4 linked regions of the Homo sapiens genome follow. The protein of the gene in region 1 interacts with the protein of each later gene in a pairwise test. Each region holds a gene or a part of one and is shown in the gene's direction. Other genes may lie near its edges. The genes, in order: PDLIM7, PLEKHN1, SLAIN1 and GARIN6.

The links.
Region 2: the proteins of PDLIM7 (region 1) and PLEKHN1 interact in binary tests that used the Homo sapiens proteins (3 or more experiments, as listed by UniProt).
Region 3: the proteins of PDLIM7 (region 1) and SLAIN1 interact in binary tests that used the Homo sapiens proteins (3 or more experiments, as listed by UniProt).
Region 4: the proteins of PDLIM7 (region 1) and GARIN6 interact in binary tests that used the Homo sapiens proteins (3 or more experiments, as listed by UniProt).

The regions. Positions count from the first base shown.
Region 1 is NC_000005.10:177,487,512-177,494,951, reverse strand, and holds part of PDLIM7 (PDZ and LIM domain protein 7), read left to right. Parts: intron 1-2,274; coding exon 2,275-2,426; intron 2,427-2,516; coding exon 2,517-2,547; intron 2,548-3,026; coding exon 3,027-3,145; intron 3,146-3,531; coding exon of another isoform or gene 3,532-3,548; intron 3,549-3,805; coding exon 3,806-3,942; intron 3,943-4,045; coding exon 4,046-4,082; intron 4,083-4,358; coding exon of another isoform or gene 4,359-4,455; exon of another isoform or gene 4,456-4,706; intron 4,707-4,920; exon of another isoform or gene 4,921-5,119; coding exon 5,120-5,181; intron 5,182-5,324; coding exon 5,325-5,559; intron 5,560-6,703; coding exon 6,704-6,884; intron 6,885-7,440. UniProt on the Homo sapiens protein: May function as a scaffold on which the coordinated assembly of proteins can occur. May play a role as an adapter that, via its PDZ domain, localizes LIM-binding proteins to actin filaments of both skeletal muscle and nonmuscle tissues.
Region 2 is NC_000001.11:969,132-976,455, forward strand, and holds the end of PLEKHN1 (pleckstrin homology domain-containing family N member 1), read left to right. Parts: intron 1-1,145; coding exon 1,146-1,292; intron 1,293-1,389; coding exon 1,390-1,470; intron 1,471-1,554; coding exon 1,555-1,627; coding exon of another isoform or gene 1,628-1,747; coding exon 1,748-1,875; intron 1,876-1,945; coding exon of another isoform or gene 1,946-1,981; coding exon 1,982-2,077; coding exon of another isoform or gene 2,078-2,088; intron 2,089-2,192; coding exon 2,193-2,273; intron 2,274-2,943; coding exon 2,944-3,019; intron 3,020-3,156; coding exon 3,157-3,293; intron 3,294-3,729; coding exon 3,730-3,879; intron 3,880-4,054; coding exon 4,055-4,195; intron 4,196-4,368; coding exon 4,369-4,509; intron 4,510-4,701; coding exon 4,702-4,920; intron 4,921-5,184; coding exon 5,185-5,233; intron 5,234-5,310; coding exon 5,311-5,444; 3' UTR 5,445-6,734; downstream 6,735-7,324. Other genes in the region: PERM1 (PGC-1 and ERR-induced regulator in muscle protein 1), read right to left, coding at 7,041-7,138. UniProt on the Homo sapiens protein: Controls the stability of the leptin mRNA harboring an AU-rich element (ARE) in its 3' UTR, in cooperation with the RNA stabilizer ELAVL1.
Region 3 is NC_000013.11:77,693,186-77,701,000, forward strand, and holds the start of SLAIN1 (SLAIN motif-containing protein 1), read left to right. Parts: upstream 1-4,501; 5' UTR 4,502-4,728; coding exon 4,729-5,354; intron 5,355-5,695; exon of another isoform or gene 5,696-5,738; coding exon of another isoform or gene 5,739-5,872; intron 5,873-7,815. UniProt on the Homo sapiens protein: Microtubule plus-end tracking protein that might be involved in the regulation of cytoplasmic microtubule dynamics, microtubule organization and microtubule elongation.
Region 4 is NC_000012.12:99,643,401-99,650,927, forward strand, and holds GARIN6 (Golgi-associated RAB2 interactor protein 6), read left to right. Parts: upstream 1-4,352; 5' UTR 4,353-4,774; coding exon 4,775-5,389; intron 5,390-5,887; coding exon 5,888-5,998; 3' UTR 5,999-6,714; downstream 6,715-7,527.

The DNA.
Region 1 (7,440 bases):
GGGCCCACATGGGTGGGTGAGGTGGGCTTTTCTGAGTTAGGCCAGCCCCCTCCCCCTCCCCTGACCCCAGAATGGAGGGAGGTGGGAGGGGCAAGGGCTGGCTGTGGGCCCAGGCCTGGGAGATGAGGTAACGTCTGGGACTGGGGGGCTGGGCTGCTCAGGCTGACTCACCCCCACCTCATGCAGGGTCCAGCCCCCTGGCTTTTTCCCTCCTTGGTTCCTCTGGCCTTACCCTGCCCCTGGCTTGAGCCCCTCCCTGCCTCTCTCCAGCCACCCGCCCAGCGCTGTCTTCTGCTCTCCTGCTGCCCTCCCCACGCTCTGAACACCCCTCATCCTCTGTGCTTCCTGCCCTCCTCACTCTGGGAAGGGAAGCCGTCCCCGCCCCCCACCCCCTCTCCAGGAGCCAGCTAGCTGCACCCCAAGACCCCCACCTCGGGCTCAGCCCACAGCTCCCAGGAGCCAGCCCTGTGGGCAGGGAGTGGCTGGGCCAGGTTTCCCTTCTACTGACTCACCATGACCTTGAGTAAGTCACTTCCCCTCTGGGGTGTCACTTCCCCATACACAGTATAAGGGGTTGATTTAGTTGGATTGAACTAAAGGTGAGGGAGTGGCTCAGGGTGTCTCCAGGTGGGCTGACCCCTCAGTTGGGCCCCCATGCTCAGCAGAGGTGGCCCACAGTGGTGGAGCCTTAGGGTCAGAGACACTTCCTGGCTCTGCCTCTTACTAGCTGGGTGACTTGAGGCAAGTTGTTTAACCTCTCTGTGTACATTTGCAAGTGCAAAATGGGTAAAATCCCAGATTACTCCACAAGGTTGTTGGAAGATTCAGTGTCAATATGTAGCATAGTTGGTGCTCAATAAACTGAAGCAAGTCTTCTTATCTAGCGAGTGAGGAAGGGGCCGCCGAGCTCTCTTAGCCTTCTGACCTCCTACGCAAGCAAGAGGTCATGTTGAGCCCAGCTCGCCTTTCTTTTCCCAGTGCTGTCAAGCTCTGTGCCTGGCTGCCCTGCCCTCTGACATCTCTCTGAAACCTCTTGCCTCCCCTCTCCCTGCCTCAGCTCAGTCTGTGCACTGACCCACCTGAGGAGCCTCCTGGGGCCACTGGCAGCCTGGACCCCCCCAGATCCCCCCCACCCAGTGAAATTGTCTTCCAGCACTGCCTCACAAAAGCCTACTTGATGCAGTGCCAGGCCTCTTGCCAGATGGCTGGGTGGTCCCTTAGGCTTGGACCCAGTCAAGCTGCCCTGCCTGTGTTGCTGGGGCTGGGCTAGAGGCCTGGAAGGGGTTTATCAGGGTCACCCTCTCAGGGCCTGGGAGATACCCAATCCCAGACATTAAAACTGCCAGTAGCCCCTCTACCTTCAAAGCCAAGTCCTGGTCCCTTCCCCTGGCATTCAAAGCCATCGTAAGTGAACTCTCACCCGCTAGGCAGCACACGCCATTCTCCTTTACCGAGGCCCACCGCTTCCTCAAAGTCATTCCTGATGGTCTCAGCTCATGCTGGTGGCAGCCATTTCTCCCAGCCTACTGTCTCTACTCATTGCCACAGGAACCAGGGACTCCCAGCTCAAGAGCCTGAAGGATTGGGGTCAGGGGAAATTGGCAGTCGAGGGCTTGGGAGTGACAGCCATGTATGGCCTACGAAGTCCCAGCTGTCAACTTAGGTCCCATTCAGGCAGTGTTCACAGGGAACCGGGAGATAACAGGGCCTGTTCCTGGCTCTCAAAGGGTCCCAGCAGACCCCTATAGATGGCCCCCGACAGGGTGCTGGGGGGTGAGAGGTCCATAAGAGCCCCCGGTGGTTTCGGGGAGGAAGCTGCCCCCTGCATGGGCCAGAGGGCATATCTGGTAGGTGGAGTGGCCTGGGCAGGAGGCCAGCAGGAGCCTCAAAAGGCAATGGTCCTCCTGAAACACTTGGGCTTTAGCCTGAGCGTGGCTGTTTGTGGACATCATAGCAATTTCTGGACTGTGGGGGAGGGTGGTGGCGGTGAATAGATAAGCATCGTGACTGGGGAAGCTCAGGTGAGCACCACCTGAGGGAGAGGGTCTGGCAGTGAATAAATAAGCAGTGTGACTGGGAAATTGTGAAGCTCAGGTGAGCGCCACCACCTCCTGGGTTGCTTTAGTGTCCAGCAGCTGCCTAGAACTATGTTGAATGAAGAGCTCTCTGGGTTCTGGAAGTGGGACAGCTTTGGGTGGGGCAGTGTTACCACCGTCAGCCTGGCTTGGGTCTGCAGGGTCCAGGGCCTCGGTCACTTTGCTTCTCTCTCCACAGCTCACTCCTGGGGGCAAAGCGGCGCAGGCCGGAGTGGCCGTGGGTGACTGGGTGCTGAGCATCGATGGCGAGAATGCGGGTAGCCTCACACACATCGAAGCTCAGAACAAGATCCGGGCCTGCGGGGAGCGCCTCAGCCTGGGCCTCAGCAGGTATGCGGGTGGACATGGATGGGTGCGCCCGCGCTGGCAGTGGGGATCCCTGCGGGCCCGGCCCGCTGTCACGCTTTCCTTCTCCTCCAGGGCCCAGCCGGTTCAGAGCAAACCGCAGAAGGTACGAGGCTGGCCGGGACATCCGGGCGGTGGGCGGTGTGGGCTTGGACGGCCAGGCCTGCTCGCCCTCCTGGCACATTCTCGGTACCCCAATCCCTGGCCGGGAGTGGAGGGCAGAAACCGGAGCTAAGGCGGGTCTAGGGCCCTGGAGTTGAGCCAGGGGCTGCTGCACGGTCCTGGCACCACGCATGTCCGCCTGTCTGTCCGCCTGTCTGTCCGCCTGCTGCCTCCCGCCGCCGGCGCTGCGTGCTCGCCCGCACTCGGTCAGCCCTCGGTCCTGCGTGGACTGAGATCGCCACTCCCAAATGGGCCCCTTGAAACCTGAGTCGTCCTCTCCCCGTAGCCTCCAAATAGATGTAGGGGGTGGGGTGGGGGTGGGGGGCTGGAGCTGCCGCTGTCCTCTGCTGCAGGCGCCCCACTTCCACCCAGGCCCCCACCTTACCCTGCCCGCCCGCCCTGCCCGGCTGTGTCTCTGCCCAGGCCTCCGCCCCCGCCGCGGACCCTCCGCGGTACACCTTTGCACCCAGCGTCTCCCTCAACAAGACGGCCCGGCCCTTTGGGGCGCCCCCGCCCGCTGACAGCGCCCCGCAGCAGAATGGGTACGTCGGCCCCTGCCCGCCCGCGCCCACGCCATCAGGCCCACTGTGGCCCCACGCCCGCTGCCCGCTGCTGCTCAGTCTGTGCTGCGCCCCAGCCCGGCGGAACCGTGCGGCAGCGCCCCCTGGCGGCCGGGGTGGGGCTGCAGGCACAGGGCCCCTCCCGAGGCTGTGGCGCCTTGCAGGGCACCGCCCTGGGGAGGGGTCTCTGAATGACGCCGCGCCCCCTGCTGGCGGCTGGGGGTTGGGTTGTGGTGTCGGGCCAGCTGAGCCCCAGACACTCAGTGCCGCCTTGTCCCCGGCTGTTCTGACCCCTCCCCGTCTTTCTTCCTCTCCTGTGTCTGTCCCTTTGTCCCTTTATCTGTCTGTCTGTCTTATTTCCTTCACAGGTGCAGACCCCTGACAAGTCAGTGAGCCCCCCTCTGCCTGTGCCTTTCTTCTTCCTTTTGGCACTCTGGGTGGCGGCCCCTCCCCACCCTGGCTGCCCTCCTCTCCACTTCGCCCTCCTGTCCTCTCACCTACCCGCCCAGCAGGGCTCCTGGCCTCACCCTTACCCACTCCCTCCCATCACTGTAACCCAAACCCACATGCACCAAATCCTGGGAGGGGCTGCCCCCACCGCCCACCCCCAGTGTGGGGTTCTGAGCCACACCCTCCCCACAGACAGCCGCTCCGACCGCTGGTCCCAGATGCCAGCAAGCAGCGGCTGATGGAGAACACAGAGGACTGGCGGCCGCGGCCGGGGACAGGCCAGTCGCGTTCCTTCCGCATCCTTGCCCACCTCACAGGCACCGAGTTCAGTAAGTGCCAGCCCAGGGCAGGGGGTACTTTCCTCGCCCCCAGCCCAGGCGTGATCCCTGACCCTGTGTCTTTTTTGGTCAATGCCTGCCTCTGCCCTCTCAGTGCAAGACCCGGATGAGGAGCACCTGAAGAAATCAAGGTACAGGGACGGGCACCAGCCCCTCTCCCACCTCCTGCCTCTTCCATTCCAGCTACTGCCCTGTGTCTACTCCTGAGGCTCCCAGCTGGGGCTCTCAATTCTCCCTTCCTTCCTTCCTTCCTTCCTTCCTTCCTTCCTTCCTTCCTTCCTTCCTTCCCTTCCTCCTTCCTTCCTTCTTTCATTTCTTCCCTCCCTCCTTCCTTCCCTCCTCCCTCCCTGCCTCCCTTCCATCTCTCCTTCCTTCCACTTCTTCCTCCCTCTCTCTCTGCCCCTCAGGGAAAAGTATGTCCTGGAGCTGCAGAGCCCACGCTACACCCGCCTCCGGGACTGGCACCACCAGCGCTCTGCCCACGTGCTCAACGTGCAGTCGTAGCCCGGCCCTCTCCAGCCGGCTGCCCTCTCTGCCTCCCTCTTTCTGTTCCTCCTGCCCAGGGCACCCCCTTAGTGCCTCCAGCTTCTGCCTACCTCACCCCCCCTTTCGTGCCCCTGGCCTGAGCCTCCTGCTGGCCTGGCCCTGGCCGCCCACCTGGGTTCATCTGACACTGCCTTCCCTCTTTGCCCTGTGGTACTGCTGTCTGCCAGGTCTGTGCTGCCTTGGGCATGGAATAAACATTCTCAGCCCTGCTTGCTCTGCCTGTCTTCTATCTTTGTGGACCTGGTTTGCATTTGGGGTGTGGGGGTGTTTCGTGGTTCGGACTGTTTGGGCCCTGCCGTCCTCGTTTTCAGTGGGAGGGGGTACCTGGCAAAGGGGCCCTGCCCTGCCATCACAGATGGCTTCCTGGCATGAGGGGAACCCCAGGAGCTGCCTCAGAAGCGGGAGCCCTGCCTCGTCTCCCAGCTAGAGACCGCACACCAGCTAACTGGACATTGCTAGGAGAAGCTGCCCTTCCCATCCCTACCCCAGTGGGACCTGGAATCCAACTCGGCAGTTTCCACGCCCCCAGTCATCTCCCGTGGGGCCAGCAGGACCCAGGTTGGGGGGTGGGGCCATGTCAGGAAGCTCAGCCATGCAGGGCCTTGAATGGCAGATCTTGCAGCCAGGTGCCCAGGACAGAAGCCCCAGCCCCAGCCTCATCTACACCCCAGGAGCCCTGGCCTGGTGAGAGGGAGTGGGCTCGGGCCTGGGCAAGGGTGGGCAGCCTCCAGGGGCATGGGGGTGGTGGGCTTCTCTCAGCTGCCTGGGGCTCCACCCCCGTCCTTTGGGGTCCCTGGGCACCCCTTTAGAGTCACTTTCCCCGGCAGGCCCTACCGCCCCCAGCCCTACCAGCCGCCCGCCCTGGGCTGTGGACCCTGCGTTTGCCGAGCGCTATGCCCCGGACAAAACGAGCACAGTGCTGACCCGGCACAGCCAGCCGGCCACGCCCACGCCGCTGCAGAGCCGCACCTCCATTGTGCAGGCAGCTGCCGGAGGGGTGCCAGGAGGGGGCAGCAACAACGGCAAGACTCCCGTGTGTCACCAGTGCCACAAGGTCATCCGGTGGGTGGCCTGTTCCTGTCCGACCCTGGCTTTCCCATCCTGCAGCCCAGCCCCACCTGTCTGCCCACCTGTCTTGCCTCAGCTGCGACTGGGGGGAATAAGGATTCAGTTCTCAGCTGGAGTAGGAGTAGGGACCTGGGCTGGGTCCTCCCATTCTTAATCCCACGCTACCTACCCCAGCCCACCCACAACAACTGCTAGCAGCATCTGCCGTGGCGAAATAGCCGAAGGGCCAACCATAGGCTGAAGCTGCACCCCTACCTTTGCTGCTCTCTGGGCAAAGAGGGGCCTGCCCCCTCCCAGCGCGTCTGCCCCTCCCTCCTGCTCTCTGTCTCCCTCTGCTCTCAGAGCATACAGGCCTGGAGCCACTCCCTCTGTGCACTGCCCCGTGGGGCCAAGCAGCATCAAACACCCCCCAGCATCAGCGTGCCGGATTCTAGAGCCTTCCTAATTCGCAGGCCTGGCCTGCTCTCATCTCTGTCAGCTCTTTTTTTTTTTTTTTTGAAACAGAGTCTCACTGTGTTGCCCACGTTGGCGTGCAGTGGCGCGATCTCGGCTCACTGCAACCTCTGCCTCCTGGGTTCAAGAGATTCTCCTGCCTCAGCCTCCTGAGTAGCTGGGATTACAGGCACCCGCCACCATGCCTGGCTAATTTTGTATTTTTAGTAGAGACGGGGTTTTACCATGTTGGCCAGGCTGGTCTCAAACTCCTCACCTCAGGTGATCTCAGGCCTGCCTTGGCCTCCCAAAGTGCTGGGACTACAGGTGTGAGCCACTGTGCCCAGCCGACTCTATCAGCTCTTGCCAGGTAGAACAGGCAGGCCAGCAGGACAGGGCAGCTCCAGGGTTTGCCCAGGGGCGGCTCAGCTTTTATGAGGCTCCAGTCGTCAGCCCTTCCTCCCGGGGTCCTCCCTGCTCTAAAGCTGCCTCTCCTGTCACCAGCAGTTCAGTGTGGCGGACTGGCTCTGTAAGCTTCACGGCTGCCACGGTCACTTCCCAAGCCTGTCTTCTATCCTATGTGGAAAATGGGGAGAATGAACTGTCCCTCCCAAGGCCTCCTGGTGGGTGGTCAGTCAACCTGAAGGGGGCCAAGACCCCCACCTCTCTGCGTGTGCTCCCTCTGACCGCTCTCGCCTCCCTGCAGGGGCCGCTACCTGGTGGCGCTGGGCCACGCGTACCACCCGGAGGAGTTTGTGTGTAGCCAGTGTGGGAAGGTCCTGGAAGAGGGTGGCTTCTTTGAGGAGAAGGGCGCCATCTTCTGCCCACCATGCTATGACGTGCGCTATGCACCCAGCTGTGCCAAGTGCAAGAAGAAGATTACAGGCGTGAGTAGGGCTGGCTGGCGGGGAGGTGGTCCCAAGCCTGTCAGTGGGAACGAGGGCTGCTGGGAAACCCACAGTCCAGGTCTCTCCCCGAGTGAGCCCTCCGGGTCCTTACCAGCGTAATAAATGGGCTGCTGTACTGGCCTCACCCTGCATTAGTCAGGATGCTCTTAACAAATGACCATGTTCCTGCTCAGAAACCGCCCAAGGCTGCAAAGAGCAGGAGGACCAAGCCAGGAGAAGCCCTGGGCCCTCCTGACTCCCACTTTGGGCTCTCCCTGCCCTGGTGAAATGACAGAACGGCCAACTTGACACGCTGAAGCTGCTCTGTCTCATGCGTCCTCCTCATTTCTGGATCCAGAGCCAGGGCTGCCAGGAGTAGCCAGAGAGCTCTGTGTGGTGATGTTCATATTAGTGAGGTTTACCTTGACCACGAGCAGTGGGAAACTCAAAATAATGGTGGCTTATTTCTCATCTAAAAACATCCCGGGGTGGGTGGTCTGGGACTGATCTGGTGGACCCAGGCTCCGCCTTGTTGCTTGACTGTTGGCAGCACCTG
Region 2 (7,324 bases), on another chromosome or scaffold:
TACTGCAGACGTGGGAGGGTTTTGAGTGTTACCCAGACACCCCCAAATTCTTCTAACAAGTCTTCAGAGGTTGAATAACCCAAGCCATGTTACACAGCTTAGGAAAGAATGAAGATGGGTTTAATCCACTGAGTCCAGATCTCACCATCTCTACCACTAGACCAGGCAGCTCTGTGTGGGGAAGTGTGTCTGTGTGTGCGTGTGTGTGCACAAGTGTGTATGTGTGCATGTGTTTGCACGTGTATATGTGTGCACACATCTGTGTGTATATGCACAGGTGTATGTATACGTGTGTGTTGGTGTATTTGTGTGTGTGTGGAAATGTATGCATGTATGCAGTGTGCATGTGTGCATGCATGTGTGTGCATGTGTGTATAGGTGTGCATGTGTATGTGTGCACGTGTGTATGTGCACGTGTGTATGTGTATACATGTGTATGGGTGTATTTGCGTGTGGATATGTATGCATGTATGCACGTGTGTGCATATCTGTGTATGTGCAACTGTGTATGTGTGCACGTGTGTATCCATGCATATGTGTGCGTGTGTGTACATGTGTGTATAAGTGCGTATGTGTGTTCCCGTGTGTATGCATCTGTGTCTGTATTGTGTGGCATGTATGTGTCTATTGTGTGTGTATGCATGTGTGCGTGTATGCATTTATACATGTGTATGTGTGCGCATATATGGATGCATGCATGTTGCCTGCATGTGCACGTATCGGGTGTGTGTGCGTGTACGTGTACACGAATATGCATGTATGCATATATGTATGCACGTGTGTGTAAATTCTGCCGTGACTGTTTTCCTGTGGAAAGGCTGAGTGTGCAGGTTCTGTGCCTGTGGGGGGCTGTTCTTCACGTATGTGTTGTGTGGCTGTGCACAGGTTCTGTGCCTGTGGGGGGCTGTTCTTCACGTATGTGTTGTGTGGCTGTGCACAGGTTCTGTGCCTGTGGGGGGCTGTTCTTCACGTATGTGTTGTGTGGCTGTGCACAGGTTCTGTGCCTGTGGGGGGCTGTTCTTCACATATGTGTTGTGTGGCTATGCACAGGCAGACCATGCTATAGTCCTGTAGCTGTGTGGATGCGAGCGGAGGGGGTGGGGGGCCCAGGGGAGGCCCCCTCCCCTGAGCTCTACTCCTCCTAGGACATCCTGGACCTGGAGAACCAGCGAGAAAACCTGGAGCAGCCATTCCTGAGTGTGTTCAAGAAGGGGCGGCGGAGGGTGCCTGTGAGGAACCTGGGAAAAGTTGTGCATTACGCCAAGGTCCAGCTGCGGTTCCAGCACAGCCAGGTGGGGGCCGGGCTGGGTGGAGCACGCTAAGGGTGCAGCATCCCCATCAGCCTGGGGCTCCCCAGACTCCGCACTGACGACCCTGCTCCCCGCGCAGGATGTCAGCGACTGCTACCTGGAGCTATTCCCCGCCCACCTGTACTTCCAGGCCCACGGCTCGGAAGGACTCACATTTCAGGTGAGGCGGTGGGCAATGGGGTGGGGCCATGGCCGCCCTTCCCTCCATGGATCCCTGAAGCTCCTCCTACCCTGTGCCTGGCAGGGGCTGTTACCGCTGACGGAGCTGAGTGTCTGCCCGCTCGAGGGGTCCCGAGAGCACGCCTTCCAGATCACAGGTGTTTGGGATGCTTCCCGGGCCCCCAGAGGCACTCCTGACCCAGGACTTGGAGAGGGGCCTGCCCTGTGGCTGCGGAGCACGTGTGTGTATGTGTGTGCCCTCTCTGCCCTGCCCGCAGGCCCACTGCCCGCACCCCTCCTGGTGCTCTGCCCCAGCCGGGCCGAGCTGGACCGCTGGCTTTACCACCTGGAGAAGCAGACGGCCCTCCTCGGGGGGCCGCGGCGCTGCCACTCGGCACCCCCACAGGTCAGTGCCGGGGACCCCACCCCCCTCCCCACCCTGATCCTCGCAGCCGGCTCTGACCTCCTCCTCACAGGGGTCCTGCGGAGACGAACTCCCCTGGACTTTGCAGCGCCGTCTAACCCGGCTGCGGACGGCGTCAGGGCACGAACCCGGCGGCAGTGCTGTCTGTGCCTCGAGGGTCAAGCTGCAGCACCTGCCCGCACAGGTGGGTGGGAGGTGCGTGGGGCTGTAGGGGGATGGGAGGGGTGCATGGTGGTGGGCAGGGCGGTGCAACAGCAGCTCAGTTCCCTCATCGCCTGACCCCACCCCCACCCACCCAGGAGCAGTGGGACCGGCTCTTGGTCCTGTACCCAACGTCCTTGGCCATTTTCTCCGAGGAGCTGGACGGGCTTTGCTTCAAGGTGGGCCCCTCCCCACTGTGGGCCCGCCCCAGGGAGGCAGCTGTGTGGGGGTGGGAGGGGGCAGCCATGCAGGAGGAACCTGTATTTCGGGGCTTGTTGAGACAGAGCGCAGGGCCCTGCCCACCCAGCCCGCGGTCCTGGTCAGTCTGGTCTCCGCTGTGACATGGAGGAGCCCCTGCCCGCCCTGAGGTTCTCACCCTGAGGTTCTTGACCGTCACCCTGGGGCGGGCAGCATGGGGCTGAGAGCCCCTCCCGGGGACTCCCTTGTGTGTGCCTGCCCGTGAGGCGTGTGTGTGCACACGTGCGTGTGCGTGTGTCCTCCAGGGCGGGCTCCGGGAAGGGGGTGTGCACTCACGGTAACCTTCAGTCACTGAGGAACAAACACAGGGCCCTCCCCATGGTTCACCCGGCCCAACTTCTTCTCTGGGGACCCCAAGAGGCCAGTCCTGTGGCTTTGTGTGTCTGCCCCTAGCCGGCGAAGGCCCCCGCGCCAGGGTTGGTGGTAGCCCCAGGAGACATGGGACCCACTGGCCTCCCTCAGGGTGGTGGCCTCGGTGCCCAGCTCTCCAAGTACCCAGCCAAGCTCTGGAGGGCAAGAGGGTGGGATGAGGCCAGGCGGGGCCCCGGGGCTGCCCCTACAAAGGCCTGGCCCTCAATCTCTGCTCCGCAGGGGGAGCTCCCACTCCGTGCCGTCCACATCAACCTGGAGGAGAAGGAGAAGCAGATCCGCTCCTTCCTGATTGAAGGTAGGGCCCTGACCCTGGTTCTGCCTCCCGCCTGGCCAGGCCATGGTGGGGCGGGAGCCTGGGGGACGCCCGACTCTTTAGTGGGGGCGCTGAGGGGTGCACCCCCCCGCCAGCCCCTCACAGCATCTGTATGCCAGGCCCCCTCATCAACACCATCCGCGTGGTGTGCGCCAGCTACGAGGACTACGGTCACTGGCTGCTGTGCCTTCGCGCTGTCACCCACAGGGAGGGGGCCCCGCCGCTGCCTGGTGCCGAGAGCTTCCCAGGGTCGCAGGTGAGGGGTCAATAGGCCCCACAGCCCAGGTCCTGGGCAGTGGTAAAAAGGGGGCAGCAGACCGGGCGTGGTGGCGCACGCCTGTAATCCCAGCATTTTAGGAGGCTGAGGCGGGCGGATCATTTGAGGTCAGGGGTTCGAGATCAGCCTGACCGACGTGGAGAAACCCTGTCTCTATTAAAAATACAAAAAAATTAGCCGGGCATGGCGGTACATCCCTGTAACCCCAGCTACTCAGGAGGCTGAGGCAGGAGAATCGCTTGACCAGGAGGCGGAGGTTGCAGTGAGCCGAGATCGTGCCACTGTACTGCAGCCTGGGCGACAGAATAAGACTTCGTCCCAAAAAGATAAAAGGGGGGACAGCACGGTGGGTCCAGGCAGGGGCGGGTGGGGAGGGGGTCCAGCCCTCACTCACCCCCACTCACTGCCCATCCAGGTTATGGGCAGTGGCCGAGGCTCACTCTCCTCAGGCGGACAGACCAGCTGGGACTCGGGGTGCTTGGCGCCCCCCTCCACCCGCACCAGCCACTCCCTGCCTGAGTCCTCAGTGCCATCCACCGTGGGCTGCTCCTCCCAGCACACACCGGTGAGCGCTTACGGGGTGGCAGACGAAAGTGGGGCAGAAGGCTGTCGGGTAGGTGTGTGTTGGGGACCCTGGTTCCTCAGGGGAACTCAGACTGGAGGGAGCCCCTTGCAGCCTCAGAGAGTTGCACGGGAGAGGGGCCAAAGGGCTCTTCCTGGAAGGTTTGTGGTCCCCACAGGACCAGGCCAACTCTGACCGTGCCAGCATTGGCCGACGGAGGACCGAGCTGAGACGCAGTGGCAGCAGCCGGTCACCCGGGAGCAAGGCCCGGGCAGAGGGCCGCGGCCCTGTCACCCCACTGCACCTGGACCTGACCCAGGTGGGCCCAGCACACCCACACAGCCCCTGGCCTGGTTCCCACCGTTCCGCACCACTGGTCTCTGTCTCTGGGCCCAGTTGTCCTGGAGCCACCCAGAGGCCTCTTGCACAGAGAAGGGGTGGCCTAGGCTGTTTCTAGCCGAGAAGCCCATTTCTCCCACCTCTGCCCTGCAGCTGCACAGGCTGAGCCTGGAGAGCAGCCCAGATGCCCCTGACCACACTTCGGAAACATCACACTCGCCCCTCTATGCCGACCCCTACACACCACCCGCCACCTCCCACCGCAGGGTCACAGATGTCCGGGGCCTGGAGGAGGTCAGGCCCCTGCTGGGTGACAGAAAGGGTGGGAGGTGCCTGCAGCCTGAGGCTGGGGAGGTCTAGACCGTGCGTCTCACCCTGGGGTCTGGGGCTGCCCCAAGCCTGAGGTCTGTTCAGGCTCTGATGGGAGGTTGAGGTTCTGGGGGCCCCTGGCTGCCACCCAGGCCCCAGCCCTGGCTCTCCCTGCAGTTCCTCAGTGCCATGCAGAGTGCACGTGGACCCACGCCCTCGAGCCCACTCCCCTCGGTGCCTGTGTCTGTGCCTGCCTCTGACCCTCGCTCCTGCTCCTCCGGCCCCGCTGGCCCCTACTTGCTCTCCAAGAAGGGAGCCCTGCAGTCCAGAGCCGCTCAGAGACACCGGGGCTCAGCCAAGGATGGGGGGCCGCAGCCCCCAGACGCCCCTCAGCTTGTGAGTAGCAGCCCCCACGCCCGTGTGCCCCGGGCTCCGGGCTGGCCGGGGGTCTGGTGTGGGGCCTCTTGGGACTCTGAGGGAGCAGGGAGGGAAACAGGAGGACGGGGGCAGATGGAGGCCAGGGGGGCCAGTAGGGAGTTGGGGAGATGGGACTGGGGAGGGAGAGCAGGGGGACATGGGGGGCTGCACAGTGACAGGCCGCCTCCAAGCTCCCTGCCTGGGGCTGTGCCCGGCTCTCAGACTTGCGGTTTGGGGTTCCAGGTCTCCTCTGCCAGGGAAGGTTCGCCCGAACCCTGGCTGCCTCTGACAGGTGAGTAAGGATCCTGCCTCCTGAGGTGAGTGCCTGTTGCCTCCCACAGGCTGACACATCTCTGCCTTCCCTACCAGATGGTCGGTCCCCCAGGAGGAGCCGGGACCCCGGCTACGACCACCTCTGGGACGAGACTTTGTCTTCCTCCCACCAGAAGTGCCCCCAGCTTGGAGGGCCTGAGGCCAGTGGGGGGCTTGTGCAGTGGATCTGATGGCCGCGGTGAGGTGGGTTCTCAGGACCACCCTCGCCAAGCTCCAGGGTACCTGCCCCTCTAACCCACTTCAAATTACAAGTCAGGGTCTGAACCCAGTGTGATGGGGGGAGTCTCTGGGGCCCTGAGTTCAGAGCCCGTCCCTCAGCTCCTGTTCCTTGGTGCCAGCAGCTGGGGCAGGGAAGGGTGGGAGGGGCCCCATCCAAAGGATGCCCTGGCCAGCGAGGCTGGGTCACAGGTCAGGGAGGTCCTGGCCGTCCACAGGGTCGGCCCTCAGCTCAGCCCGCCAGGAGTCAGGGAGGAGACTCGCTGGGAGTGGGAGGGCAGCACGGGCGTGAAGGTCGGAGGACAGAGAAAGGTCAGCAGGGTCAGAGTATGTGAGGTCAGAGGGCATGAGGGTCACAGGTCAGCAAGGTGTGAGGAGCACAAGCCAGGGTGCCCCGAGGAGGAGGGTGGGTGGGTCCTTGTGTGGCCTGGCGCGCACCACAGGGCAGCACGGGAGACGTTGACACCACCGGACGAGAAAGAAAAAAGAGAGAAGAGAGAGAGGAGAAGAGAGAAAAGAAGAGAAGAGAGAAGAGAAGAGAAGGAAAGAGAGAGAGAGAATAAGAAAAGGAAGAAAGAAAAAGAAAAGATAGAATTTTATTGGTGCTGCATCCATGTGTTCTCTGCTCAGCAGCCAGGGTCTCCCACAGTCTTGAGGACCCCCACCCAGCACCCAGCCAGGCAGCCCCCTTCCTCTGCCACCTCGGGCCCCTCACCGACCTTCCCACCTCATCTCTGACTCCTCTTGGCTGTGGGTCCCCAGCTGCCCCACAGGAGCCCCCGGGACAACCCCAGGAGCCCAGCCCTCCATCTGAGGCCACCGAATTCTCCCTCTGCACCTGCACCCAGGGCTCCCGGGGAGGGGCTCGCGGCTCTGCCACAGACCCCCACCCTGCAGGGGCTGCTGCACTGGGGAGGGGCAGGCAGAGCCTTCGCTGTCTCAGGCCAGAGCCCGCAGAGGCCTTGGCCACAGTCCTTTGAGGATCAAGAGTGATGGGCCTTGGAGCCCTTGCCAGCCCAGCCCACCTGTGAGGAGGCTGCCCATCCCCTCTTTGAGGCCACCCTGTGTCCTCTCCCCTGCCTCTGCCCAGAGCTCCAGCCGGAGTGTCTTGCTGCTCAGACCCCTCCGAGGTCCAAGTCCTGTCCTGCCACTCAGCTCCCCCTGCACCCCAGAAGAAACGCAGGGTGCGGTTGCATTTGATTTCAGATAAACAACAACTTCTTAGTAAAATGACCTCCCCACTATTGCCTGTCTGAAATTAACCGAATGCCCTGTGTTCTCATCTGTGAATCTGGCCACCCTCCTACCCAGCCACCTGCCTGCCCTCCACCCACCCAGACTTTAGCACCTCCCTCCCAGGCGTGGGGAGTGGCCGTGGTCACTGGCTGGATCCTCAGGTGAGTCGGAGGGAGCAGCACCAGGACACGCCCCCCTCCTGGACGCGGTAGAAGAGAGGGGTCAGAGGGCCCGGGCGAGGGCGGCACCTCGTCCTGCCCTGGGCGCCTGTGGTCGTCTCCTCATCCTGCATCTCCCTGGCCCGGGCCTGGCTCCTAGGAGCTGGGGCTGGGGCTGTGGCTGCGGCGCCCTTGCCCCACCTGCCGGCGGAAGTAGCGGATGGCAGAGATGGTGCCGACGTTGGCCAGCAAGGCTGCAAGAGAAGCACAGGCTCTTCTGAGGGCCAGCCTGGCTGTCGGCACCGTCTGCCCGCAAGACCCAGCCCTCAAAGGGCGGGCAAGGTCGGTGCGGCCAGGGCCGCAGCTCAGCCTGGGGGGAGCAGGTCAGGGGTGAGCCCCGGGGCCCCCGTGCACCCCTCGTCCTGCCAGCGCCCCTCGGT
Region 3 (7,815 bases), on another chromosome or scaffold:
TGCCTCAGTTTTCTCGTTTATACAATAAGAATAATTATCTCAAGGAGTTGTTTGACAATTTAATAACTTAATAAATGTAAAGGGCTTACAGCAATTCTTGGCATTTAGTAAGCACTAGATAGCTTCTAAGATAAATTGTAGAAAGTTTCTTTCTAATGGCAGTAATACATGTGTGAGCTATTCATAAAAACAAAACAAATCGACCACAGAGGAAAGGATATAGATTAAGAATTAGAGCTGGGTACTATTTCCTAGTTTTCATCCCATGAAGACTGATAAATGAATATCACAATACTTGCCCTGATGCCTTAGCTAACAGCTTGATGAGGAGAACCAAATGAGATAATGAATTCTCTTAAATGAGGAGATCCAAATGAGATAATGGATTCCTTCCTTCCTTCCTTCCTTCCTTCCTTCCTTCCTTCCTTCCTTCCTTCCTCCCTCCCTCTTTCTCCTTCCTTCCTTTCTTTTCTTCCCTTCTCTTTCTTTCTTCTTGCCTTCTCTTCCTCCCTCGCCTGCCTGCCTTTCCTCCTCTCTCTCTCTTTCTTTTAGAGATGAAATATCACTATGTTCCCCAAGCTGGCCTTGAATTCCTGGGCTCTAGCAATCCTCCTTTCTCAGCCCCCTGAGTAGCTGGGACTACAGACACATGCCTCCGTGCCTGGTTGAAATAATGTTTGCTTTCTACTTGAGGCCTTCCCAAAATTTTTAGCCAAAATTGCTCCTTCTTGATCACTCCCTATGCTGTTTATTTATATTTTCTTCATGATACATAACACTAATTTTTGTGTTATAGTTAGTTGCTTATATGCTTCTTTCTCCAACTAGATAAGGTCTTGATGGTGGAGACACTGTTTTCTTACTCACTTCTCAAAACTCATCTAGCACTTGAAAATAATAGACATGTAATGAGTGTTTATTCTAAAGGGCTCTTACAGGTATAGCTTGACAAATCAACAGAATGATTATTATTACTATTATTGTTATTATAACTACCACCACATGTGACCTTATAGGGTATAATTATGTGGGTTTTGGGCATGAATATGAGTAGTAGAGTTGGGTGGGGTTAGAATGGAGCAACTCACACAGGGATTTTTTTTGAATAAATTCTGACTTCTTGTATTTCTGTTTTCTCTTTCCATAATCTCCTTACATTAAAATGCAACACATTAGGTGCAGCAAGTATTTTCCTGGCTATTAACTGGGTCAGATGTAAAATAATTGATTATTATGGGATCTGCAGAAAGCCTCTAGTCTTCCTATGTTGTTACCATATGATAAATGAGGTTTATGGAAATAGCTAATTATGTGTTTGTCTAAATTCCAGCTAGAACTTGGGGATTTATTTATTGATTCATTTATCTTTTAAAATTTTTTGAGTATTTATTTGCCATGTGCTAGACACTGTGCTAGGCACTGCATATGGGCAGTGGGACCTGCAGTGTTCGAGTCTATTCTGTATGTATAAACAGGAATCTCCATGAAGAGGCATAAGAATCACTCAAACATTGTGGTTCAAATCAACTTGAAAACACAGTTGGGGATCTTTGATCTTAGTTTAACACATTAGGTTATTTTCTTTTCTTGCAGTAATTGGATCTATAAACTTGAATTAATGTAGTGCTCATATTAGGGTATGTCAGCTGCACTGATCGCAAAATTTAAACGTATGAATCTTACTCTAGGAGAAATTTTACTCTGGCCCACTAGCAACTGCTAAGAACCATCATTTTCATGAGTGAACTTGGGCAAGTAACATAACCTTGTAAGCTCATCTGTAAAACTGGGATAATAACAGGCTGTTTCTAGATTTCCTTTGAGAATTATTTTTATATACTCAAGAACCTATGGGTGCTTTTGCGATTCTGTTGCTGGATCTATTTAATGTTCATACACAGTATTAGAAATATATGTGAAAAATACAAATTAAAATAAGTTCATGTGCTTTCTTAAAATTCACTAGAGTGATGATAGTTCTGAAGTGTAATGAATAGAGAGAAACATGCATTTCTTTATCCAGTTTTGAATGTGTGATATGTGGATGTTTCACATTACCTTATGGTGTATCAAATGTATGCTTAAAGCATAAACTTTTAAATGAGACATGCACTTTCATTTTTCATATCCTCTTTGTAAACCTCTGAAATCACCTACATATTTTATTTAAAATCAAAACATTACAATTGAGCAACTACAGCATGCAATTTCTTTCAAAACACAAAGCTTACTAATTTGCATCAAAATAAAAAAATCAAGACTGCTTAATTAAAACCTTGACACCATCAACCTCTTTAATTATACGTTAAAGAGACTGGCATCCTGGGGACACCAACTTGAAATCAGTGTGCATTTTGAGTGTCTCTGGTGTGTGTACATGTGCAATTCACAGAAGGGAAAAAAAGAGGGGCATTAAGAGAAAGCAAAAACATGATTTAAATTTTCTTTAGACATTAATAATTTCACACTTTTAAAATAGGTAGGAAAAGGGCAAATTTGTCTTTTCAGAAGAATAATGCAGACTAGAATTGTAAAACAATGTTTCATCTCTTTTCTATGTCTAAATTTCAATGCATGCTTTCTTTTTAAAGAACAAAGATTTTTATGATAATTATTACTTAGAAAACAGGGTTCAAAAGCTTGGCTACTGCTTGTTGGATGTATATAGACCATATTGGGTAAATGAAGGAGGAAAGGGCTGTCTGTTTCTCTCCTTCTTTAGAGTGTATATAAATTGTGCAGTAAAATGACGGCTTTTCTTTACATCTTAATTCTTGTTGTCTTCACTATTATGTGCCTATTCCCAATTTCTTTCTCTAGTCTGGGACCCAGCAGCTCTTTGTTCTCATTGTGTCTGTCGTCTCCCTTTCTTTGTGTTGCAGGGAGATACTGCTACCCGCATCTGCCACTGAGCATGCGGGAAAAATCCTTCAATAGATTCTTTACTTAGGACTTTCAGTAGTATTACTCCATTTCTCCAGGTTTTGGTAATAACCAAAAAAAATCCTAAAGATATACCGAAACTTGGAAAGGTGATGGGTGATACAGGTGGTTAGGTGGTGGGCTAGCAAGCTGGGACACAGGGAAGGTTAAGGGAGTCATCACACGCATTTAGCTAATTTATGGAAGCGCTCACCAAGCATGTTAAATGCAGAACATCCACCCTGCACACAGAAGCTAGAGATGTAGATTAACAACTGAGAAGATACAAGTGTTTCTGAGCAGGAAGACACAAAACCATATCTGAAACCAATAGATACGATGTGTTAGCAGCTCCAGAGAAATGAGGTACATTGTCACAAAGATTGGTATGTAAAGTCCCTAGCAAGGACTTTCACTAGATAGTATATCATCTGAGGATGAGAACCAGTGGTGTAGATTTTTCTCATAATATAATCTCAGGTTTTCCTCTGATTGTGTTAAACACTCAAAATGCTAAGTCAGTCAGTATTCATTGAACACAACTCGATTAAATTCTTCTGCTTAAAAGCCTCTTTTAAAAAAAGCAGATTTGCTCGTTTTCCAAGTGGTAAGAAATAGCAGGTTTGCAGGTGAGATTAAAGTGTATTGGGTAGAATTCTGAGGTTTTCTGTTTTCTGCTTTCCCACCAGCAAGTCTGACTTTAATAACTTACACATTATTTAATAGAAGGAGCACTAAACAATTTTACTCATATTTCTCCCCATAACCATTTTTGCCTATTGTACTCATTGCCCGCATCACGAGCTCTTAGAATGGTTCCTGGCACAGAGTAGGTGCTCAAAGATCTTTTGTTTGGGGAATGCATGAATATACATAGTATGAAAAAAAAAGCAGTTCTTCTTTTATTGTGACAAACAATGATGGTAACAGTTCAAATTTGACTATTTTAGAATAAATAAGTAAACACTTGTCTCCTTAGCAGCTGGCCACTCTACCTCTTAGAGAGAGGGCTTTCTTCTCTTTCTTCTCGGTCTCCTGTCTCCCACCATTTTGCTTCTCTATTACCAATGAGAACATGAGTGGCATGGTCCCAAAGCCTTTCTGTTCCCCCTATCTCCACTTTTCGGTTTTTAGAATAACGATCCCCAGCCTTTAAGTTTTCTATAGGATTCGTTAGCCAGTGGCTATTAAGTGCTGTCACGGAGCCTAACAGAGAGCTGGGAAGGGAGCAAACCAGCGGGCCGGTGGTGCACTACTCGAGGGCCAGCACCTGCAGCTGCTTCTTTGGGAACCCCCTGGTCCCCGCAACCGCCTCAGAGACCCGCGCAGTTCACTGTCCCACCAAGCGGCAGGAGGAGGTGCTTGTGGCGGGAAAGTTCAGGCCAGGTCCAATCAGGCCCCTGGGATTAGGTAGCGAGGGTGGGTGCGGCTCCCCGGCCCCAACCCGGGCTGCCGGCCCCGCCCCCTGGGTGGGCTTCCCCACGGTTCTCCGCCCCCCCCCCCCCACCCGCCCCCTCGGCGCTCTTGCCCCGCCCCGCTCCGGGGCCGCGGCTAAAACCCGGAGCCGCCGCGACGCCCAGGGGACTGGAGGGACGCACTGAGCATGTGCAGATCAGCTCGGTGGTGGCTGCCGCGGCCGGAGGCGAGGGCCCGGTGCTGATGCGAACCGCCGGCTCGGCCTCAGCCCGCGCGTGGTCGGCCCCCCAGGCCGGGGCGACAGGGAAGGAGCCGTAGCCTCCCCGTGGCCCGAGGAGCCGGCGCGGCGGCGCGCACTCCCCGGCGGCCGCGGCGCCCTCGGGGCCCACGATGATGGCGGAGCAGGTGAAATGCGCCTCGGCAGGGGTCAGCTCTGGAGCGGGCTCCGGGCCGGTGGTGAACGCGGAGCTGGAGGTGAAGAAGCTGCAGGAGCTGGTGCGCAAGCTGGAGAAGCAGAACGAGCAGCTGCGGAGTCGAGCGGCCAGCGCGGCCGCCGCCCCGCACCTGCTGCTGCTGCCGCCGCCGCCGCCCGCCGCGCCGCCCCCCGCTGGCCTGCAGCCTTTGGGTCCTCGGAGCCCCCCGGCCGCCACGGCCACCGCCGCGGCCTCAGGGGGCCTGGGGCTCGGGCTGGCGCTGGGCGCGGGGGGCGGTGGCGGCAGCGGTAGTGGCAGCGGCGGTGGCTCCAGCCCCGCGTTCCCGGGCACCTTCTGCCTGCCTAGCCCCGCGCCCTCCCTGCTTTGCAGCCTGGCGCAGCCACCCGAGGCGCCCTTCGTCTACTTCAAGCCGGCAGCAGGCTTCTTCGGCGCGGGCGGTGGCGGGCCGGAGCCGGGGGGCGCGGGGACGCCGCCAGGGGCAGCTGCAGCGCCGCCCTCGCCGCCCCCCACGCTGCTGGACGAGGTGGAATTGCTGGATCTGGAGAGCGTAGCCGCCTGGCGGGACGAGGACGACTACACCTGGTACTGCCTGGCTCCGCTCCTTCCCCGAGACCCTGGCCTCGGGGGCTTCGGGCACCGGGGAGCGGGGGCGGGGGGCGGACGGGGGTCCCCTCGCGGCAGCCGGGGTGACTCCCCGCGGCTCCCGGAGGGGCCGACCCAGCAGGTGTTGAGCCAGGCGGTGACACTTCCCACGATGAGGCTTCTCATGAAGGCAGAAACCTGTTTTCTAATCGCTCCGACTGCGGATGAACCGGCCCCCCCTTCCCCCCATCTGCCATGGGTTCTGCTATTTGCTGATTGTTGGGTCCCAAGCTCCTCGTTAGCATTAAGTGCAAAATCCATGTCATCTTGTCTTTTTGCTCAGTGCTGCTCTTTTCCCCAGTGTTTTCGGAGGGATGACGGGGGATGGTAGGGGTTGGCCTCTGTCTGCGACTGTTACTGTTCTTTCGTTTTAAACGAACGCTGGACAGGATTTGCGTGCTCTTCCTCCTCGGGTGGCATCGGAAGCCGCGCAGTGATGGATCTCTCTTTATAGAGAGGTTCGTTCTTGCTGTTTGAATTTTGCAGTCGTGTGCCCTTTTGCGTTGCATTTTCATTGAAATCTTATTTTCAGAGACTGACTTGCTTTTTAAAATGGGGTGACCTCACTGGCTTTCCCATAAATAGTGCCAATAAAGAGGACTTTTCTTGGAGTGGAATGAACAGGTGGGAGGGACTTTTTTATTTATTTATTTATTTTTTTACCTAGGAACCAACGAACTGTCTTTAATTTTTTAAATTAAACTGTAGAAGAAAAGTGAGATTAGAGAAGCCTTATTTTCTTATTTCTTGGAAACTTTTTAGCTTGGTTATCAGAAAACTTGAGGCTGACAGCATTTATTCAGTTGACATCTGGTTAGCACTGTCTACTTTCCATGAATGAGTAACTTTAGGGGGAGGCTTGCTGTAGTCCTTCTTTACTTTAGGTCCTTTTTATGTAGGACCCTTTCTGTTTTTCCAAGCTGTGTTTTCATTACTTTCTTTGTGTCTCTGTTGCATGATTGCATGGAAGGGATTGGGAAATGGAGATCCTTACTGGTTTCCTATTGGGAACTGCAGTGTTCCTTTTCCCTTACACTCTGTCATGTGAGAGCTCTAACTGTAAAGTACATTAGTTAATTGGTTTCATTCAAGAATCAAAATATATGGAGTTACAGTAAGCCTTTCAGAGGTGTATTCATCATCCACCTTAATACTTTTTGGCAGCTGTGCAGGTAGCTCAAGGTGTAAAAAAATCAAACAACTCATCACTTTTGGGAACTTTAAGCCATTTTTTCAAAGCTGCACCCTTATTTCTGTAAAGTAATCTCAGTTTCAGTCTGAATGTGGTACTAGAAAATGCTCTCATGATGGTCCTTAGATTTCACTAATAACTCTCAGCCCTTATGCCACTTTCAAATTATTTTAGGTTGATTTAGTCCCTACTTAGCCTTTTCTGATGGTATGTATGTAAACAGTGGAAGGAAACTTGTTTACATTTTTGATGGGGAGATATATGGGATCAGTTTTATGCTTAAAATATTTGCATTTTAAAATTTATTGTGATATTGTTTGTAAATATGAGATTAGTAATCTATTAATAACTTTCCTTCTTTTGAATGGATTTCTGTCATATTTAGTTAGCATCCTATTACTAGCATTTTGGTACCTAGGCTTTCTTTTTATAGTTTAATTTTGTCCAAATAGCATTGAAATAATCAACTTTAACAGAAATCACCCACTTAGTGGTATTAGTATATTAGCTCTTCAGATGGTTTGAAGCAAATCAAAGTTGAAGCAGGTTCTATTTCATTCAACAAGTACACAGGTGAATAAATCAAAGCCTTGATGCTTTACAAATGTTTCTAGAGACAAATGGCAGAGAATCTTCCTGAAAACAAGCCTGAGATTAGAATTCCAGGTGGAAAAACAAGGAGGGTTCATTAATCTTAGTGGGATGGTCTTAAAAATTTTAAAGTTACCTGATTTACATAATTTTATTATTACATTTTATGCATCAAGATTTTGTTTGCATTGCAAATCTTTTTGATGAAGAAAATATCAACAGGGTTTAATTTTTAAAGTTTAACCCACTTGTTAATGCTTGCAAAGCACTCTGTTCCTTTATCACTGCAGACTATAGTGTCCCAGTAGTGTGGTCTCAGAAATAAGAGTGCTGTTCATTTGGTTCCCTGATATGTTTGCAGGATGGCAACTTATTTTTATTTCCTGTGTTTATTAAGAAACAACTGGAGTGGGTATATAGTACCTTATTTTAAAAATATTTAAAACTACAAGTTTTACATGCTCATTGTAAAAAAACTAAAACATAGATGTAGGTATAAGGTCACAAAAATTATCTTCCTTGTCCCCAATTTATTACCGTGACTCAGAATTCACCCTGTTAATACTCTGCAGCTCCTTCAAGATAAAAAAATATAATTACAACAATCAATATACAAAC
Region 4 (7,527 bases), on another chromosome or scaffold:
CAAAGAGAGAGAAATGAAAAATAAAAAGTGAGTCAACAGTCCGAAGCAATTCAGAACTGCAACTGGGCAAACTCCATTAGGTTTCAAGCCCTGGGAATAATCCTTTGGAGTTCTCAGCTCTACCCTCTCGGGCCTCAGTCCCATCCTCTGAGTCCTCCTTTCTATTCCATAAAGGTTAACTTATGTTTGCAAACTCAGTAGTTTCATAAGCCTATTTCCTGCCTGCAGAATTTCAGGAATCCAACAGCCTTCTTTCATTTTATCCTCTGTCCCTTTAAGTCCAAGCTACCAAAGTCTCCGCTAATAAACCATTCATGAAAACACTGTGGGTCTCCCAGGTATGTCACAAGAATTTCCTGGATAATCCCAACTCTGAATCCCATCTCAGCGTAATTCATCTCATCATAATTCAGATCTGCTCAATCTCTTCAAAGAGCCCTCTGTGTGGTTGAATAATCTCAGTTTTTGATCCTCCTGAGGCACTAGAAACAAGTTATCTAGCCATGCTTTCAGCTTTCTCTCTAAGTACACTTCTTGACAGTGAATCTAAAAATTTCAGTGTTTTTTGCAATCTGGATAGATTGAGAATGTTCCAACCATCAAGTCCTGGTTTCTTTGAGTTTAAATGTTCTTCTCACAATTTATCTCTTTCCTCCTCCCACATTTCAGTATAGGCAACAAGAGGAAACCAGGCCATACCTCCAACACTTTATCTAGAAATCTACTCAGCAAAATATCCAAGTTCATCACCTACTAGATCTGCTTTGCACATAACCATAGAATATAATTCCTCTAGACTATCTGCTATTATATAGCAAGTATCTCCTTTCCTCCAGTTTTCAATAACATGTTTCCTATTTATTTCTGAGTCCTTATCAGAAGCACCTTTAACATTCATATGTTTATTAACATTCTCTCTACAATGATTTAGGTATTCTCTAAGATCATACAAGTTCTCTCTACCATTTCCCCCGCTTTCTTCTGAACCCTCACAGTAGTGACTTTAACATCCTCGTTTGTATAAACATTATGTTTATGACAATTAGGTAATCTCTAAGAAAATACAGGTTTTCTCTACCATATCACTTCTTTCTGAGCCCTTATTAGCGGCATCTTTAATGTCCATATTTCTGTTCAAGGCAATCTAAGCTCTTTACATCATGCTCCTCAAAATTCTTCTAGCTTCTACCCAGTGCCCAATTCCAAAGCCATTTCTATATTTTTATGCACCTGTTACAGCAGCACTCCACTTCCAGGTACCAAAATGTGGAATAGTTTCCTAGGGCTACCATTACAAATTACCACAAACTTAGTTGCTTATAACAACACAAATTTATTCTCTCATAGTTCTCAAGGTCAAAGTCTAAAATGATTCTCTCTGGGCTAAAGTTAAGGTATTGGCAGGGCTATCTCCTTCTGGAGGCTCACAGGGAGAATCCACTTCCTGTTTTTTCAGCTTCCAGAGGCCTCTTGCATTCCTTTGGTCCATGGCTGCACCACTCTGACCTCTACTTCCATCATCACATATCTTCTGACTCTGACCCTGCTGCCTTTCTCTTACAAAGACCACTGTGATTACACCGGACCCCCAACGTAATCCAGATAACACCCCCAATTCAGATCCTAAACTGAATCACATCTGCAAAGTTCCTCTGCCACATAAGGTAATATATTCACAGGTTGTGAAGATTATAATGTAAATATCTTTTGGGGGAATTATTCTGTAAACCACAGCCATGTTCATTATTAACTGATTTCTGTTTAAAATACTTAACCCATATTTTCAATTACATAGTTTTAAGCACTAACACCGCTGATTGCCTATCTTACTGAACTAATATCTTGCCATTTCCTCATTTCAAACGTTGGTTCTTTTAAAAGTTTTGGGAAGACGAAATTTAGCAAGAGAATAAAATCATATATTGAATTAAACAATTCCCAGAGCAGTTATACGAATAATATCTCGATTCATTGTTATGGTTCAGAGTATCTCCAAAGTATGTAGTAGTTTTGTTGTTGGGAGAGAGGGGGAAAGCTAAAGCCCTATCACAAAACCGTAACTATTCTGGAGTTGAAAGATAGCTCAGGGGTCATCTCCATTTCAAGGCTGAGAAAAATAAGGCCCAGAGAGGTTAAATTATTAACCCAATGACATAAACTCCAACAGAGAGGAGAGAGTATATAAATTTATTTTAATATATCTAGTGACTAACTATATAGAAATCTGATTTAACAGCAACCACACAGAAAGCTGCTGCATTTTCATAAAAGGAATTTCTTAATCTCAAGTTCAGGTAGTTTTTTATTTAGCTATCTGAGCTTCTCAAGTCTTGAGGCAAATGCTAAAAAGGTAGTTTTCTAAACAGCTAGAGGAATTTCAGACAAACCCCATCAAATTCATAAAAATAGGTATTTGCCAGAATGCTACATAGGATGGTTATCAAGCCAAATGAAAGAGGTTCCACCGTTGTCAGTCTACTGACTGGTGTGGAAAATCCAAACATCTATAGGCTCTATAAGTAATGTAGTTTCTGGCTTCCTTGGAGACCAGCGCTCTAATGGAACTCTAAGACAAATATCTTGTCATATATGTGTATAGCAAAAAAGTACTTTTAAGAAAATCAGTAAAAAAAAAAAAAAAAGGCACTTAAATTAAATTTTGCTGTGTCCAATACTACCAATCCTGTTATCCCTTATGAAAAACATCAGAACCACTTGGACACTTTTAAAACGTTATTTTACTAAATGTGTATTTGGTTTCTTGGTTTTGCCAATTACAAGATAAGTAACATAGACTTGAAGTGGAAGTTAAGATATAAAGACTTTAGGAAGGGCAGTAAAAAGTGCTATTGATATGTGAATAGGCATCTCAATAAATAAAATAAAAATACTCCAAGTATCCAAAATAATCAAACATTTCAATATGAAAGGAAGAAATTATGTTTGCATTGACTTATGCAACTAAAGACTCAAGTGGGCTGGGCACGGTGGCTCACACCTGTAATCCCAGCACTTGGGGGGCCAAGGCGGGCGAATCACGAGGTCAGGAGTTCGAGACCAGCCTGAGCAATATGGTGAAACCCCATCTCTACTAAAAATACAAATTAGCCGGGCGTGGTGGCACACGCCTGTAGTCCCAGCTACTAGGAAAGCTGATGCAGGAGAATCACTTGAACCCAGGAGGCGGAGGTTGCAGTGAGCCAAGATCACGCCACTGATTCCAGCCCGGGTGACAGAGTGAGACTCCATCTCAAAAAAAAAAAAAAAAAAAAAAAAAAAGACTCAACTATGGCTATGGCTCTGTGTGTGTGTGTGTGTTTGTGTTCACATGGGTTATCATGTGTACTGTCATTTCAATAAAGATATTATAATCTTATTGAATTGAAAATATTTGCAATACCTAGCAAAATTCTTTACAGCTTTTTTTTTTCTCAATACAATCTGATGGTAAAGAATAGAGCATAAATGTGATGTTTAAGGCTCTTTTCATTCCATAGCCAGGGTATGAATGTCTAGGTAAAACTCAAAAATTGCATCAACAGTTTGAGGGTGAGTCAAAACATAAAATTTATCATGGCTATAGAAACAGAAAAAAAAAAATACATTGCCAATAAAATAGTTATTTCCCCTGGTAACAGAAATAAATTTCCTAATAAAAATAGAAGTTAAAAAGAAAATGAAAATTATACCTAAGCACTTTAAACATTTCACTGAACATAATTCCATATCCACAAACACATACACGTGGTCTTACATAAATTGAATCTCACCTATACTATGAGTTTGAAATCAGTTTTTCTCTTATTCTTTAAGAAAAAAAAAGGTCAGGGATATCTTTTCATGTCAATAAATAGGAAAACTACGTAATCATTTTTAGGGCTGCAGACTGTCCCGTCACAGAAGCTCCATAATTTATTTAAGCAATCCCCTATTGTAAGACACTAATGCTGTTTATAATTTTTTACTCTACAACAAACATTGATAAACATCCTGTACCAATCTGTTTACCAATTTATCCAATTCTCTCTTTAAAATAAATGTCTACAACTAGAGGAGCTGGATAAATGAGTATACAGAGAATGTATATTAAACTCTTGCCTTGCACAGAAAATTTACCTCTAACCCTTTTGAAAGCAATTTGCCAGAATGCATTAAGGTCCCTAGATGGTAGGTTGGTGGCGGGGTAGTGGTCTGCTGAGCTGTGGAGGGCGGTGGGGCTGAGGGTGGGGTGGAGAGGGCGGTGCCCCTGCTCTGAGGCAGGGACTACTGGGTGACAGAGACAAAGGGGTGTGTGATGGGGCAGGTCACAATGGGTAGGGGAGGATAAAAGTGGTCCTGCGGGGTGGTTTAGCAGCAGTGGATGGTTCAGGTTGGGAAGAAGAGCAGTGGGATTGCCAGTTAAGGTTGTGGAATCAAAGAGCAAAGGCTGTTGTGAAGTGGAATATCAGGCTCAAATGGAGGTCCCTCCCGAATGAGCACTGACACCTGTGTGCCCGGACATCCACGAGGGCCCCAACACCTGTGCTCCTGACAGCTCCATGCACTAAGCAGGGCACAGTCTGGATCCAGGGGACTGACTGTCTCTGGCATTGAGCGGTTGGTAATCAATACCCCACCCTCCCTGTTCTCAGTCACTTGGGGACAAAAAAGAAAGCCTGCAGAACACGACTGCTGGCCCACCTGCCAGAGTAGCCAAGGAAACAGGATGCCCGCTAAAGCATGTTAAGGAAGGTGTGGAGCAGCTGCTGGGAACTGTCTTGATTTAAAGGAAGACATGGAGGACTGCTGTATGCTACCGTATTACACGGCCCAAAGCAGCCCCGCAATGGGCATGTTTAACACCTCCATGGGGAAGCTGCAGCGGCAACTGTACAAAGGCGAGTATACTATATTCAGGTATGCACCCATGTTTGAGAGCGACTTTATCCAGATCAGCAAAAGAGGAGAAGTGATTGACGTGCACAACCGTGCCCGAATGGTAACAATGGGCATCGTTCGCACCAGCCCCTGCCTCACACTACCTGATGTCATGCTGCTGGCCCGACCAGCTGCTGTCTGTGACAATGCCAGGTGTGGTCCTGCCACCCAGAAAAGAGAAAGTCCGCCTGCAGAGATCTTAGAACTAACCAGGCTGCTTCCCTTGATGTTTGTGAAAATAACCATCCACAACAGCGTAAAAAAACAGCTCCACCTGAAGCTTGCCACGGGCCGCTCTTTTTATCTTCAGCTGTGTCCTCCATCGGATGCAAGTGAAGACCTTTTTGTTCACTGGGAAAACCTTGTTTACATCCTGAGACCACCAGTGGAGGCTTACAGTGATACCAGGGCTATCCTAGCTGGGAACACATTGGACTCATCTGTGTTGGAGGAAGTGCAGAGGAGCCCAGTGGTGAGTCTATGCAGAGACTAGATGGGGCCTGGATGCTTTGGGGGAGAGCAGGTACAGGTCCTGTAAAGCCTTTGGTGCTGCAGCTCACCTGGGAAATGCATTGCATTTGGAAGGTCTGAAGGCCAAATGAGCTTCCATTTGGAGGCCATGGTACATTGAGGAGGTTCCTAGTGCTTCTCCAGGGTTCTCCAAGCCTGAATTTCAGAGATTTCTTAGCTGTCAGCAACTCTTCATTTTATATCCACAGCTGTTCATTTTATATCAATGTTGTAATGCTGTCCAAAGCATCCTGACCAGTCTATTCTGAAACACATACTATGACCTAGGCAGGCTGATATGTTGTAGGACGTGTCTCCCTGCAATTGCCACTTATATACATTGGTGGCAACACAACATGTTTGTGTACTTGTGCAATAATTTCTTTTTGTTGTTTACCTATAGGAAGAGAAAGGAGATCTTGCTGGTCTCACTGTCTTTGCTTATTTGTTCTCTCCCTAGGGATATGCCATGAAGTTTTGTGAAGAGAAGGAGCAATTCAGAATCAGTAGACTTCACATGAATGCTGAAATGTTTGGGTCCACCTATTGTGATTATACAATAGAGATATGAATCCAACATACCTCCCACATATACTACGTTCAAGAGTTCACACACCCCTGCAGTCATAAAACCTATAGTGCCTGATGAAGGGGCAGGGTAGCAACAGCAGTAGTGATGACAGTAAGCACCACCACAGGTACCATGGATGTGGCTGCAACCAAGTCTGCAGACTCAGGAGAGAAACACAGCACTGGCAAAAGCAGCCTTCAGAGGTCCAGGAGGAAGTATAGCCAGCATGGCTATTAGTGGGTGCTTCCATGTCTTAATCTTGTTATAGCAAGGGCTGCATGCACATTCTTGTCCTAAAAGGGTACTTCAAGCATATCAGTAAGTGCTACTGGCCTCTCCCTAGAGAGCAGTATGAATGTGGTGGCTACAGGAGCAGAGAGATACTGAGAAGGCTGTTGCATTGACAGTATCTCTCTGCTACTCAAAGGCTGACTCTCTGCTACTCAGCATTGGGAGTCAGTTATCTCAACTCTGCAGGATGAGGCCACATGCGTGAATGGGATGGAAGCCAGAGGGTCTCTACCTAGCTGGATTGACTCTGCAGTAATAACCTCAAAGCCCAGTACTACACATGGTGCAGAGGTGGACATCTCACCTAAGACTGTGGAGGGGAACAATGTGATTCACCATAATAAAATCCATCAACTCAAATTATCTGCTCTAATAACATATGCTCTATTGACAGGAAGGGTAGCAATAAAACTAATGGCAATTTATGATCAGGCTCTGAAAACTATCTTTAACTTTCCCTTAACTTTATATTTTTTAAATAAATTAATAGATGACAGAATAAAATGTTGAAGATTACTCTCAGATATGATCCTACATTAGGAGAATTATTCTAAAACTGTTTTCCAAAATATAAAATGAGAACCCAGGAATACACACACACAGACTCTCTCTCTCTCTCCTCTCTCTCTCCAGGTTTGAATCACAGCATTGCCACACATTAACTGTGAGTTTCAGTAGATTGTTTCTTTAAATGGTCACCTTGAGACCATACATGTATAATATCTGGAACATAGTAGGCACTGTGTAAATGGTAGTGTTGAGAAACAAATTCTGAGTTTAATCATACTTTCCAGAAAGGGCTTAATTTTCCCAGTCTCTTCATTCTTGATTTCCTTTCTTAAATCTTAATTAACTGCTTTGCAATTGTCCCATAAAAGCTCTATTTACAGTAAATCTTCTCAGTATCTTCCAAGAATTTTAATCCCCTGACGCTATTTAGAATTCTAAATTTTCATGAATTTGTAGAAATTTCAATCTAGTTACAATGGAAAGATAATTGCAAAGCACTCATCTTTTACCTGGTTCTCTCCAATTTTAGTATTCTTGGAGATAGAAAAATAAAATGTAATATAGGATCAATTCATAATCTGGACAAAAACTGGAAATTAGATCATTTTAGAATTGTAAGATCCACATCCATGGGATTAGCCAATATTCTAATTTTGCAAGTAAAAAGTCTGCTCGAGTCTAAAGTAATACATCACATGGTTTGAGAACCAGAATGTATAGGTAACCTG